2 linked regions of the Homo sapiens genome follow. The protein of the gene in region 1 interacts with the protein of each later gene in a pairwise test. Each region holds a gene or a part of one and is shown on either strand. Other genes may lie near its edges.

The links.
Region 2: the proteins of UNC93A (region 1) and SLC35E4 interact in binary tests that used the Homo sapiens proteins (3 or more experiments, as listed by UniProt).

The regions. Positions count from the first base shown.
Region 1 is NC_000006.12:167,294,293-167,301,319, forward strand, and holds part of UNC93A (protein unc-93 homolog A), read left to right. Parts: intron 1-224; coding exon 225-406; intron 407-1,739; coding exon 1,740-1,969; intron 1,970-3,652; coding exon 3,653-3,778; intron 3,779-7,027.
Region 2 is NC_000022.11:30,638,781-30,645,807, forward strand, and holds part of SLC35E4 (solute carrier family 35 member E4), read left to right. Parts: intron 1-7,027. UniProt on the Homo sapiens protein: Putative transporter.

The DNA.
Region 1 (7,027 bases):
GGGCCTTCACTCCCTGATGTTTAGACACACTAACTGCTTTATTCCGAATTCACCTGCACTTTTCTCCCACCAGCTTCAGAGGAGGCTCCCAGGGCAGCAAGCCTGTGGCTGGCGGTTCCTGGGAGCTGTGGCGGCCTCCAGCCTGGGGGACACTGAGGACCTGCTGGTGCCTCATCCCGCTGTGTCCATCCTGTGCTCTGACAGGGCTGGCTTTGTTCCCACAGAGCAGCCTGTACAGCGAGGAGGGCCTGGGTGTCACAGCGCTCAGCACCCTCTATGGAGGCATGCTCCTGTCCTCCATGTTCCTCCCACCGCTCCTCATCGAGAGGCTGGGCTGCAAGGGGACCATCATCCTCTCCATGTGTGGCTACGTGGCCTTCTCCGTGGGCAACTTCTTCGCCAGCTGGTACGCAGCCACCACCCCCTGCCCACCCCACCCCGGCCGTTCCCCACGCTAGGGACGTTCACTCTGCACATGAGTTGCATTTGCACCTGATTACTGTTCACTGCAGGCATTTTAAAATGAGCTCTCCTGCCCCTGCACCCCCGCCTCGCTTTGGTGACAGACGGTGCTGGGCTTCCTTCCTGTTTTCCCACCAAGGCTCCTCTGTGCCCCCCACTGCTTCTGTCTCCTCCTCCCGATCCCCGATGCTGGCCTCTCCCTGGGATCCGTCCTGGTCCTCAGCTCCCCTGGCTGGGCGAGGGTTCCAGTAACACAGGGGACTCTAACTGCAATGCAGATGGTGAGTCTCGTGGGCACCTAGGCAGATGTCACCAATGGACCGAAAGCTGCACCTCGCCCACCATTAGGAGGTGGGTATGGCCAGGGCAGGTCACAGGGATGGGAGGCCACCCTGCTCCCTGGTGAGATGGACCACAGAGACTGAGCTCTGAGGGCTTTGGCCTGCACCCCAGGCCCCGGGAACACAGCCATGGAGCATCTCTTCCAGGGACCCTGGTTGTGCCAGGACATGCTGCTGATGATGGCTGCAAGTCCTTCTTCCCGGTAGCTGCAGAGTCTTACATGGCATGCCGCCGCTGAGGCCCGAGCCGGTCACTAGGTCTTTTTAACCGGGGCTGTCCCTCGGCCTCCCTCGTGCTCCTCGCCTCCCTCGTGCTCCTCGCCTCCCTCGTGATCCTCGGCCTCCCTCGTGCTCCTCGCCTCCCTCGTGCTCCTCGCCTCCCTCGTGAACCTCGCCTCCCTCGTGATCCTCGCCTGCCTCGTGCTCCTCGCCTGCCTCGTGCTCCTCGCCTCCCTCGTGCTCCTCGCCTCCCTCGTGATCCTCGCCTGCCTCGTGCTCCTCGCCTCCCTCGTGCTCCTCGCCTCCCTCGTGCTCCTCGCCTGCCTCGTGCTCCTCGCCTCCCTCGTGATCCTCGCCTGCCTCGTGCTCCTCGCCTGCCTCGTGCTCCTCGCCTCCCTCGTGCTCCTCGCCTTCCTCGTGCTCCTCGCCTCCCTCGTGCTCCTCACCTTGTTGTTTGCAATCGCATCCGATACAAGGAGCCTCACTGGCTTCAATTTCACTTTTGCAAATCAGTCCAAGCTAGGAAATGCACTGATATTGCTCATTTTTCTGAGTGTAATGGTGAATCCATCCATCCAACCAGCAACACTCATCACCACGCTTGCAATGGGCCAGGCGGTGGTTCCTTCTCCCAGATTGACTAAAGAACTGCAGGGACATGGGTGCAATGGGCTTGCGTCTCCTGTTACAGGCTATGGGTCTGCATTTTACCCACAGGTACACTTTGATCCCCACCTCCATACTGCTGGGACTCGGGGCCGCCCCGCTGTGGTCTGCACAGTGCACATACCTCACGATCACGGGAAACACACATGCAGAGAAGGCGGGAAAGCGTGGCAAAGACATGGTGAACCAGTATTTTGGCATCTTCTTCCTCATATTCCAGTCATCCGGTGTGTGGGGCAACTTGATCTCATCGCTGGTATTTGGCCAGACTCCCAGCCAAGGTAAAAGGAAAAGGGGCAAGCAATTGTCTCCAAGTGGAGCAGGGGTTTCAGTGATGGGGGAGAGGGTTCCTGATTTCAGTTGCACACCTGCCTTGATTCTGTAACTTGAGCAGGTGAGTCAGGCCCCACAGGTGAGATTCTCAACCTGCCTGTGCTTCAGAGTTGCCTGTTACCTGCTGTCTTCTGGACAGTCGGGTGGGACTGAAGAAGATCTGCGTCTTCCACAGGTGCCTCCGCAGGGGCAGGGGAGCCCTTGGGAGAGGGCGCCATGGGAAACTGAGGGCCACGCCAGTAGAATTTGTGTTCATGGAGTCTCAACTGCACAACTGTCCTTTTTAGACTAAGGATGGGGTTGCCTGATTTCTTTTCCCTGTGACTTGATACAATGACCAGATTTTCAAATGTTTTATGACAGGCCCCTTATCCCATGACAGATGTGGACATTGGATGGGCTGATGCCCTGGCTCCTCTGTCTCTACCCGACCTTGCCCTGGTATAAATATAAAGTGCATATCTCATTTGTGCCCATGACCTTAGTGCCCACGTTGAGGCTTTAAGCACAGGGCAGAGGACATACATCTCTTTCATGCTTACAGGAAAACTTTCCCAACGGGGTAAAAACCAATCCAGCCCTCCTGACTAGTATCACAACTATTTCTATCACTTCATCAAGGTTCTCCATCTTGCTATCCCATAAAAATCCCACGCTTGGTAAACTCTGTAGCCAAAACCCCTCTCCCTTTTTCTCATGCGATGTCATGCCTGCTAAGTGCATTTGAAGAAGGGAAGCCGTGAAGGTGATGCATAGCAATTTTTACTCATTATTGCTGTTGGTGTCAGCAACAATGAAACAGAAACTGGGGTTACAGCTCAGTCTGCATATCACGGCCAGTGAAGTGGAGGAACAGGCATTTCTTTCGAAGACCTTTCTGCAGGTGAGTTAGTTCTCCAAGTCAGCACAGGACACAGAATCTGGGGCTGGAGGGATTTGGAGGGCGTCGTGTGCTTCTCCACCTTCTTGTACCTTCTCTTATCAGCTGCACATCTCACCCACCTAGAAGATTTTGTGAAGCTGTCTGTTATATAATTTGTGTTATTAAAATAATAAAAACACTGAATATTCTTTCTCCCACCACATCTTTCTCCTTTCCCCAGAGATTCTGACAGGACTTCTGACTGAGAGTCATTGCTAATTCAAATTGTATTTTTCTAAGAGATCACAGAACTAACGTTAGTTTTCAAAAACAGAAAAGTTATGAAATCACCTGCCCAAAGTCATTGAGTTGGTAACAGATGAATCTGAAAGAGAATCCAGCATTCCTGGCACCCAATCTCATGTACTTTTTTCTTTTTGACTAATTTTGAAAACTTGAAAAATTTTAATTATGTCAGAAAAGCAGTAAAACAAGTAACCAGCACTTTTCCAAGTTCATTCTTCCCTGAATCTTTGCAGAACACGAATAGGATTTTCCACCTCCCAAAGTGTCTTAAATCGAGTCTAGGGACATGTGCCTAGACTCGATCTAAATCTATTTTGAGACACTGGGTCTTTCCACGTGACCTGTAGTGATGCCTCCCCCCAGGTGTCCAATGTCCTTTCCACTGTCACTTTGATTTCTCAAGAACCTACATCTTGTCACATTTGCCGTCATCTCATGTCTCCTGTCCACTCTGACTTCATAGAGACCCTTCCAGAAGAGCAGCTCACGTCCTGTGGGGCCAGTGACTGCCTGATGGCCACCACAACCACCAACAGCACCCAGAGGCCCTCCCAGCAGCTGGTCTACACCCTCCTGGGCATCTACACTGGTACGAGCTCCATCGGCCCAGGGCAGGGTCCCTAGCAAAGCAGAGCCAAGCCTCCTTCCTGGGCTGACAAAGACTGTCTCTCCCAATGTAAAAGTAATCTCTCTTCTTCTGAAATATCCTTGCAAAATGTATTGGTCTGGATTATATGCAGGCGGTGTTCTTATGAATCAAATGCAGTACACCCGTGCTGTCTAACAGAGGATCCTGGGGTGATGAGATTGTTATACATCTCCAGAGCCCAACACAGCAGCCATTAAGCACTGTGGTTGTTTACATCTTAACTGATTAAAGTTTCAGTTCCTAAGTCTCCCAGCCACACTGCAAGTGCTCAGCAGTACGGGGGCTGGCGGCTACCATTACAGACAGCTTGGTGGCTGGCTAGGGCACTGGGATTGACTGTTTGTGTTTCAGCTGTGGCCAAGGGGCCCTGAACATCCATAATTGCTATAAGCCACTTTTTTTTTTTTTTCTGAGAAATGTGCTGAGTACCTTCTGTGGAAAGGCTAGAGGGGCGAGTGCTCCCAAGTGCTTGTTGCACCTTAGCTGGAGACGTTGCAAGCTCATGGTGAAAGGGCTGCCCAAAGGAAGTTAATTGTCATGACGAGGCTCATTCTTAGAAGTTCATTTTAATAGAGAATGTTATGTAATAGTTTCATATGTGACTTCAGTGTTATAGTCAAAGGTTTATTACAACTTTGAAGGGGATACATTTAGAGAGTTTTAAAAACCATTTTGTAAATAATTTAAATATTTTTTTTTTTGGCTGGGCATGGTGGCTCACACCTGTAATCTCAGCACTTTGGGAGGCTGAGGCGGGCAGATCACTTGAGGTCAGGAGTTCGAGACCAGCCTGGCCAACATGGTGAAACCCCATTTGCACTAAAAATACAAAAATTAGCTGAGCGAGCATGGTGGCATATGCCTGTTATCCCAGCTACTCGGGGGGCTGAGGCAGGAGAATCACTTGAACCCGGGAGGTGGAGGTTGCAGTGAGCCAAGATCGCGCTGCTGCACTCCAGCCTGGGCAACAGAGCGAGACTCCATCTCAAAAAAAAAAAAATACACACACACACACACACACATATTTATATATGCATGTACATATACATATACACGTATATATTTCTATATGTATATATATATATATATATTCTTTGTCATTCTTGGATTTGGGGATTCATAAAGGCCTTGGAATGGGTCCTTCTTAAAGATCAAAGGCCTGGCACCTGTGAGCTCTGGGGGTACCAACTCCTGCACTCTGCCGGGGTCAGAGGTGAGGAGGGTTCGTGGGCACTGCAGAGCTTTTCCTCATGCTGAGATGATGTGCGGCACCAACCTCAGGTCCCCTCAGGCCACTTCCACATCAGAGGCTCTGAGTGAGCACTTGTAAAGCTATCGCTGGAAGTCGACAAAGTGTACTGAGCACGTGCTAGGCCATGCTAGGCCTTCTTGGTCCAGACATTCAGATGACTAGAAGCTCGCCTTTAGTAAGCTGAGAGCCTAGTGAAGGAGGCAGACACACACCCAACTAACCGAGACCAGTCCGACAGTGTTCTGAGCACAGTTCCCAGCTGACTTGCAGCTGCATCTCCCTGGAGCACGGAGTTTCAGGAAAGCCTCCAAGGGCGGGTGGTCCCTAAGCCGAGTCTGGACAATGAGCAAGATTTGGCCAGGCAGGGAAGTGATGCTGAAGTCCCTGGAGGCGAGATGTCCAGGAAGAGCCCGCAGGGCTGGGGGCAAGGTGGAGGGGCAGAAATGGGGCACAAGACTAGCTGTGGCCCTTGATGTTGTGCCAAAGGGTCTGGACGAGTGCAGACTTGCCTTCTTGACAGACCCCATGCCAGCGTGACTTAGAGGTGCAGAGAGACAGCGGGCAGAGACCCACTGAGGACGGAGTGCTGAGTCCAGAGGAGGGAGCAGGTACGGGGAGGCAGAGATGGAGGGGCTGAGAGAGAGGCCAGCAGGGTCCGTGTGGGTTGGACATGGTGTGGGGAAGAGAAGACAGCCCTGGGGTTGACAGGAAGATGAGCTCAGGCCGGGAACACCTGGCTTGAGGACGCAGTGGGACTCTTGCATAGTGTCCAGTGGGCAGTCTGACGCCGTGCAGGGCTCAGGCCAGAGGCCAATGCAAGTGTGGACGTGGAGGCATCTTCCAACATGGTGACTGGAATCATGTCAGGGATGAGGCTCTTAGGGAGAAAAAGCAGAGGGAATTGTTACAGAGAAGGGAGTATAGCTGGACCCCTGGTTCAGCAACACTGAGGGCCAGGCAGACAACTGGAGCCTTGGAAGGAGACAGAAAACCAAACCAGGGTCTTGGAGGACACCAGGGTTGTAGAATCAGCTGGGGAGGGGGTTTGAGAGTGTTGAGTGTGGCAGGGCCCCTAGGAGGCTCAGGGGGGAGGCTGGACGAGGCTCTTAGCCAGTGAGAGGCTGTTGATGCCCATCAGGCGAGCAACCTGGGGAGGGTGCTCGTGTGCAAGGCCCAGACTGAGGGTTTCAGAAGTGAGTGGAAGGTGTGGACAGGGAGTCAGGAGGAGCCACGGTTTTCTCTGGTCTGCAAGTCTCTGCTGACTTGGAATTGTGGTCATGTTTTCCCAGCAGGCCCCAAGGTTCCCATCAACATGGTCCCAGGGACCAGCCAGGCCTGTGCTTCCCCAACACTTCCCCTCACCACCTCCTCTACATAACTAGGAGGCTGGGGGACTCGGGGACATTGAGCTGAGTCAAGACCATCAGGTCTCCTTCCAGCTCCACAAATTCCAGTTAGGCAGCCACCAACAAAGACTTCTCCTATCTATAAAAGAACAGAATTTTGGAGTGGGGGCTGCAGCCTTCCTCTGTGAAGGGCTGACAGCAAATATTCCTACATGTAAGTATCTTTCTGAGGATCATATGGTCCTTGTTGCAATTGTTCAACATTGTCTTTGTAATGGGAAAAAGCCATAGACAACATGTAAGCAAATGAGCATGCCTGCATGCCAATAAAACTTTATTTTCAAAAGCAGGCAGTGGGCAGGCTTTGGCCCGCAGGCCATAGTTTGCTGGCCCCTGCTCTAGAGGAACAGCACAGGCTTCTCTGTGGCTTCCAGGCCCTTCATTGCCAGCTGTCCTCCGCAGGTGGCTGTTGTCTGTGGAACCTCCCCTGCAGGGTTACCCCCAGTGTGCTCTCTGGCCACAGCCCCATCTCGGTTCACGGAATCCCGCAGCCTAAGGGAGTCCAAGTCTAGAAGTTATGTAGAGCAGAGA
Region 2 (7,027 bases), on another chromosome or scaffold:
CAGCCTGGGTAACAAGAGTGAAACTCTGTCTCAAAATTAGCCGGGCCAGGTGGCATGCACCTGTAATCCCAGCTACTGGGGAGGCTGAGGCATAAGAATTCCTTGAACCCGGGAGAAGGAGGTTGCAGTGAGCTGAGATTACACCACTGCACTCCAGCCTGGGCGACAGAATGAGACTCTGTCTCAAGAAAAAGAAAGAAGTTCAGCCCAGCGCAGTGGCTCACACCTGTAATCCCAGCACTTTGGGAGGCTGAGGTGTATTGGGGGAAATTCAGCCAGATATCGGGCGAAATTCACCCCTGATATTTCACGTAGGTTCTTTTCTGTATTACCTAAGTGTCAGCTGGTCTGAGAAATAAAGGGACAGAGTACAAAAGGGAGAAATTTTAAAGCTGGGTGTCCGGGGGAGACATCATATGTCGGCAGGTTCCGTGATGCCCCCTGAGCCATAAAACCAGCAAGTTTTGATTAGTGATTTTCAAAAGGGGAGGGAGTGTACCAATAGGATGTGGGTCACAGAGACCACGTGCTTCACAAGGTAATAGAATATCACAAGGCAAATGGAGGCAGGGCCAGATCACAGGACCATAGGACCGGGGTGAAATTAAAATTGCTAATGAAGTTTCGGGCACGCATTGTCATTGATAACATCTTATCAAGAGACAGGGTTTGAGAGCAGACAACCAGTCTGACCAAAATTTATTAGGCGGGAATTTCCTCGTCCTAATAAGCCTGGGAGCGCTATGGGAGACTGGGGCTTATTTCATCCCTACAGCTTCGACCATAAAAGATGGCCGCCCCCCAGAAGCAGCCATTTTAGAGGCCTACCCTCAGGGACGCATTCTCTTTCTCAAGGATGTCCCTTGCTGAGAAAAAGAATTCAGCAACATTTCTCCCATTTGCTTTTGAAAGAAGAGAAATATGGCTCTGTTCCACCCGGCTCACCGGCAGTCAGAGTTTAAGATTATCTCTCTTGTTCCCTGAACATTGCTGTTATCCTGTTCTTTCAAGGTGCCCAGATTTCATATTGTTCAAACACACATGCTCTACAATTTGTGCAGTTAACGCAATCATCACAGGGTCCTGAGGCGACATACAGCCTCCTCAGCTTACGAAGATGATGGGATTAAGAGATTAAAGATAGGCATAGGAAATCACAAGGGTATTGGTTGGAGAAGTGATAAGTGTCCATGAAATCTTCACAATTTATGTTCAGAGATTGCAGTAAAGACAGGCGTAAGAAATTACAAAAGTATTAATTTGGGAAACTAATAAATGTCCATGAAATCTTCACAATCCACGTTCTTCTGCAATGGCTTCAGCTGGTCCCTCCGTTTGGGGTCCCTGACTTCCCGCAACAGAGGTGGGAGGATCACGAGGTCAGGAGATCAAGACCATCCTGGCCAACGTGGTGAAACCCTGTCTACTAAAATTACAAAAATTAGCTGGGCGTGGTGGCGCCTGCCTGTAATCCCCCCTACTCGGGAACCTGAGGCAGGAGAATCACTTGAACCCAGGAGGCAGAGGTTGCAGTGAGCCGAGATCACGCCACTGCACTCCAGCCTAGGGACAGAGCTAGACTCCATCTCAAAAAAAAAAAAAAAAAGAAGAAAGAAAGAAAGAAGTTCATGATTTGCACAGAGGTCACGGGGTCCCTAATGATGTGAAGCATGGTCTATGTGACTCCAGATGCTGGCTCTGATGAAAGAGGGCAGCAGGGCTCTGGGCAGTTTAGGGCCGAGGCTCCAGGCCCAGACCCACTAGATCATTCTGCCTGAGGGCGAAGGCTGGCTTCCTGCCTTTCCTACTGAGGGGCATCTGAGTCGCAGCCTCTATCCTCTCTCTGCCTCAACCCAAGGAGACATAGGGGAGGCCAGGGTGCCCACTCAGGGTGGGGAGGCCTGGGTTCCAGCCATACCTTTGCTCATATTTGCTGGGCAACCTTGGGCATATTGGGATTTTATCTGGGCCTCAGTTTCCTCATCTGTCAGTGGAGGAGAGTTGGAGTTGATGGAGTCCAAGGGGCCTCTTGCTCTCCCTTCGCCCTGAGATCCTGTGACCCAGGCCTGGGAGAAGGAAGTGGGCACACCAAGAGTGCTGGGCTGGGATTGATGACAGCCCACAGCCAGGGAAGATTGAAGTCAGAGTTCAGCCCTGCCCTGGCGTATTCAGAGCTGACACAGAGGCCCTATCTCTATCCTCCCTGGCTCCAAGGCAGGGTCAAAACCCAGTTCTATTTTTTGCCCTCAGGTTACATGAGAGCTAGAGGCTGAGCACAGGCATGAGCTCTGGGCATGAGTCTGCACTGGGAAACCTGACCTGTGGGCACCCCTGTGCAGGCCACAGGGCTGTGAAGGTCCTAACCTCAAGGCCCATGCTGCCCCTGCTGAGAAAGAGTCAGTGCTTCTCACACTGGGACCCAGGCAGCCCCAGCCTGCAGGAGGGGCAATGGCCGGCCAGGCCTCAGGCACTTGGGCATGGAGTGGCATGTGCCTGGCATCGGGCTGCATCTTGACTCCTGCCAGCTCCCTCCTTCCCTCCCTCCCTAGTCTTAACTCCTGACCCCTGGGAGGTTGAGTCCTTGCTCTGGGCTCCTGCGGTATCCTCTGCTCCCCCTATCATGGTTCCAAATGCCATGTATGATCACCACCTGGTTACCTGTCTGCTGCCTGCCAGACAGATTTGGGGCAATTCTATGTTCCTGGAACCTAGCCCTGGGGCCTTGCAGAGGATACATAATTTGTAAATTATAATTTTTAAATTTTATTTTATTATTTTTTTTTTTGAGACAATCTCTCTCTGTCGCCCAGGCTGGAATGCAGCAGTGCAATCTCAGCTCATTGCAACCTCTGCCTCCTGGTTTCAAGCAATTCTTGTGCCTCAGCCTCCTGAGTAGCTGGGACTACAGGCTCATGCCACCGTCCTGGCTAATTTTTAATTTTTTTTTTTTTTTTTTTTTTTTTTTAGAAACAGGCTCACTATGTTGCCCAGGCTGGTCTCAAACCCCTGGCCTCAAGTGATCTTCCCTCCGGGCCTCCCAAAGTGCTGGAATTACAGGTGTGAGCCAACATGCCGACAGATTTACTGATGGCTCTGACAGGCGAGCTGATCTCATAGACTGGTTGGGCTGCCTGATTCAGGAGGGAGTTTAGGGGGCTAGAGGCCCCACTAACAGAGATAGGAGCCCTGCAGAGATGGGGAGGAACAGACTTGAGCCAGGGCCTGAGATAGGCTTTTTTTGCTTGTTTGTTTGTTTGTTTATGAGAGGGTCTTGCTCTGTCATCCAGGCTGGAGTGCAGTGGCTCACTGCGGCCTCAATTTCCCAGGCTCGGGCAATCCTCCCACCTCAGCCTCCCGAGTAGCTAGGACTATAGGCGTGCCTCCATGCCCAGCTAATTTTTGTATTTTTTGTAGAAATGGGGTTTCATCATGTTGCCCAGGCTGGTCTCCAACTCCTAGACTCAAGTGATTTACCCACCTCGGCCTAAAGTGCTGGGATTACGGGCATGAGCCACCACACCCAGCCTGAGATAGGTTTTGAACAAAAGGTTTCTACTGCAGGAGGCTCCAGGAGAGGCACCAGGGCCAGATTCAGACGTGAGTGTACGTGGCTGATGCCAGCTCCATTCCTGAGAGCAGAGTTTGTGGGAGCAGAGGGCAAGTATCCAGAAAGAAGGCTGGGCATGGTGGCTCACGCCTGTAATCCCAGCACTTTGGGAAGCCAAGGCAGGCAGCTCACTTGAGGTCAGGAGTTCGAGACCAGCCTGGCCAGCATGGTGAATCCCCGTCTCTACTAAAAATACAAAAAAAATTAGCTGGGCATGCTGGTGCATGCCTGTCATCCCAGCTACTCGGGAGGCTGAGGTAGGAGAATCTCTTGAACCAGGGAGGCGGAGGTTGCAGTGAGCCGAGATATCACACCATTGCACTCTAGCCTGGGCAACATCTCAAAAAAAAAAAAAAAAAAGGCCAGGCACGGTGGTTCACACCTGTAATCCCAGCACTTTGGGAGGCCAAGGTGGGTGGATCATGAGGTCAGGAGATTGAGACCATCCTGGCTAACACAGTGAAACCCCGTCTCTACTAAAAAATACAAAAAAATAGCCAGGTGTGGTGGTGGGCACCTGTAGTCCCAGCTAGTCGGGAGGCTGAGGCAGGAGAATGGCGTGAACCCGGGAGGCGGAGCTTGCAGTGAGCCCAGATAGCGCTACTACACTCCAGCCTGGGCGACAGAGTGAGACTCCGTCTCAAAAAAAAAAAAAAAAAAGTATCCAGAAAGAGGAGAGCCCAGGCAGCTGTTGGCAGGGCCAGCGACTTCCCTCCTTCTTGGGCCAGTTGTAGGCCCAGGGAGCCTGCACAAGGAGAGGGGTTATGCCATCCTCCTACCCACAGAAAGGGTGGGAAGTGGGGCGCCAGCCTGCTGAGCTTGCTCTCAGCTGGACTCCCCCGCCCGTCCGCATCACAGAGCAGGCGGACTCAACCCCTCTGAGCTCTCAGGCTGATGGGGGAGATGCACTCAGATATAGAGATCATGATGGCAGAAAAGAAGTTCTAGAGTCAAAGTGGTCACACGTGTTGGGGAGCGGTTGCTTCTTCCTGGGGAGCGCTGAGAAGGCTATCTAGGGGAAGAGACATGCAATGATGATGACAATAATGTAACCATGAGAGCAAACATTTGTTGGGGCCTCCCTAGGTGCCCACACCATGCCCAGCTCTTCATACTGAAGGAGGAGGAAAGGGTGATCTGGGAATGGGAAACAGGCCGTGCCAGGGCACAGGGTGTCAGCCAGCAGGAGCAGGGTGTGGGGATCATGCCAGCTGCCGGGGTGAGCCGGCATCAAGGACATCACACAGGGCATCAGGCCCTGTGTTCAGCACCTCACATGTGAGGGGGCTGTTGCTACCCGAGCCACACGACTTAAGGAGACTGAGGCGTGGAGAGAGGGAGACAGTATCACACAGCCCGTGAAAGAGCAAAAGGGCCAAGCCAATAGCAAGCAGACAGGGTTTAGAGAAGGGTCAGCTGTTGTCTGCATGTGGCAGAAACTTGGGCATGTTCCAATAGAAGGAGAGGTGGCAATGAGGCAGGACAAACAGGCTGACATTTTGGGGTCCCCAGGTAGAAGCCAGTCACCGCCTCTGACAGCGAATGGCTGCCCTTTCCCTGGGCTGCAGGGAGGGGAGGTGGAGGATTGGGTGGGATGTACAATAGGTGTGAGGAGATGGGTGGGAAGTTTAGGACCTTCCTGCCTGGCTGCCTTGCAGAGGGTGAAATTTACCAAAGGTGAAGTTCACCTGAAAACCCAACCGCCTTCTTGTGATGGGACGTTTAATGTGCAAGCCACAGGTAGCTCATAACACTGTTAACTTTCGAGCCTGCGAGCAGGAGGCATTCTGATTATCTGTTCATTTCTAGAAACGCTTGAGCCAGAGGGACTGTTTGTTGCCTAGAGAACAAAGCTAAAACATCGGAATGAAATTGAGAGAGAAATAAAATTTCCTATTCTAAGCATAGCCTATGAGTAAGCATCTCTGTGGCTTTTTGGAAAGTGTGTGTCAGAAAATGCATAGAGGCTCACAGAGGCCTGGGAGGGGACCTGTGTCGACTACTCATCTCTCTCCACTAACTTGGCAAAGGCCCCATGCCATCATTGCCCTCATGCAAATAATGTCATTTCAGCCAGGCGCAATGGCTCACACCTGTAATCCCAGCACTTTGGGAGGCCAAGCTGAGCAGATTGCTTGAGTCTAGGAGTTTGAGACCAGCCTGGGTGAACCAGATGACGAAACCCCATCTCTACAAAAAATACAAAAATTTTCAGGGGTGATGGTGCATGCCTGTAGCCCCAGCTACTTGGGAGGCTGAGAAGGGAGGATCGCTTGAGCTCGGAAGGCAGTAAACTGACATCGTACCACTACACTCCAGCCTGGGCAAGAGAACCAGACCCTGTCTCAAATAATAATAATAATGTCATTTCGCCTGGGCAAGAGAACCAGACCCTGTCTCAAATAATAATAATAATGTCATTTCGCCTGGGCACCCCTTTGTGAATTGGCTGGTGGTGGCATGTGTACACGTAGGTACACACAGATACACAGTCACACATAGGCAAAGCAGCAAGATCCCCTCCTGCCTTACAAAGTGAAAAGGTTTCCTCTTAGTCCTGGATTCATCTTGACAAGCCACAGTATTAGCAGGAAAAAAAAAAGATGCTGATTATCAGTTATAAACAGTGAGTGAGAGCCAAGATCCCACAATGACCTTTTGTCCCCTTGTCACTCCAGTGGTCATAAGTGAATGAGGCAATGAATGGGTCACACTTTTGACCCAATTTATTATTTTCTTTTATAAACTCTTCTTTTTTAATGCAAAGGCCCCCATGTGGCTAGTAAGTGGCAGAGCTGGGACCCTCTGCTGGCCTGCCCTTTCATGGTGGCTGGAACTGCAGTGTGGGAGTGATAGGGGCTGAGGCGGGAAAGGTGGTTGGGGCCAGTTGATGCAGAGTCTTCGAAGCTGGGTGAAGAACCCTGGGCTGGGTGCACTGGCTCAACGCCTGTAATCCCAGCACTTTGGGAGGCCGAGGTGGGAGGATCACCTGAGGTCAGGAGTTCGAGACCAGCCTGGCCAACATGGCGAAACCCCGTCTCTACTAAAAATACAAAAATTAGCCAGTTGTGGTGGCGCATGCCTGTGATCCCAGCTACTTGGGAGACTGAGGCAGGAGAATCACTTGAACCTGGGAGGCAGAAGTTGCAGCAAGCCGAGATCATTCCACTGCATTCCAGCCTGGGCAACAGAGCAAGACTCTGTCTCCAAAAAAAAAAAAAAAAAAAAAAAGAACCTAGGACCTTCAGGGCCAGGGCAGCCCCTGAAGATTTATTTTTATTTTTTAGAGACAGGGTCTTGCTCTGGTCATTGAGGTGGAGTGTAGTAGCATCATCATAGCTCACTGTAGCCTTCCTCTGGGCTCAAGTGATCCTCCTGCCTCAGCCTCTCAAAGTGCTGGGATTACAGGCATAAGCCACT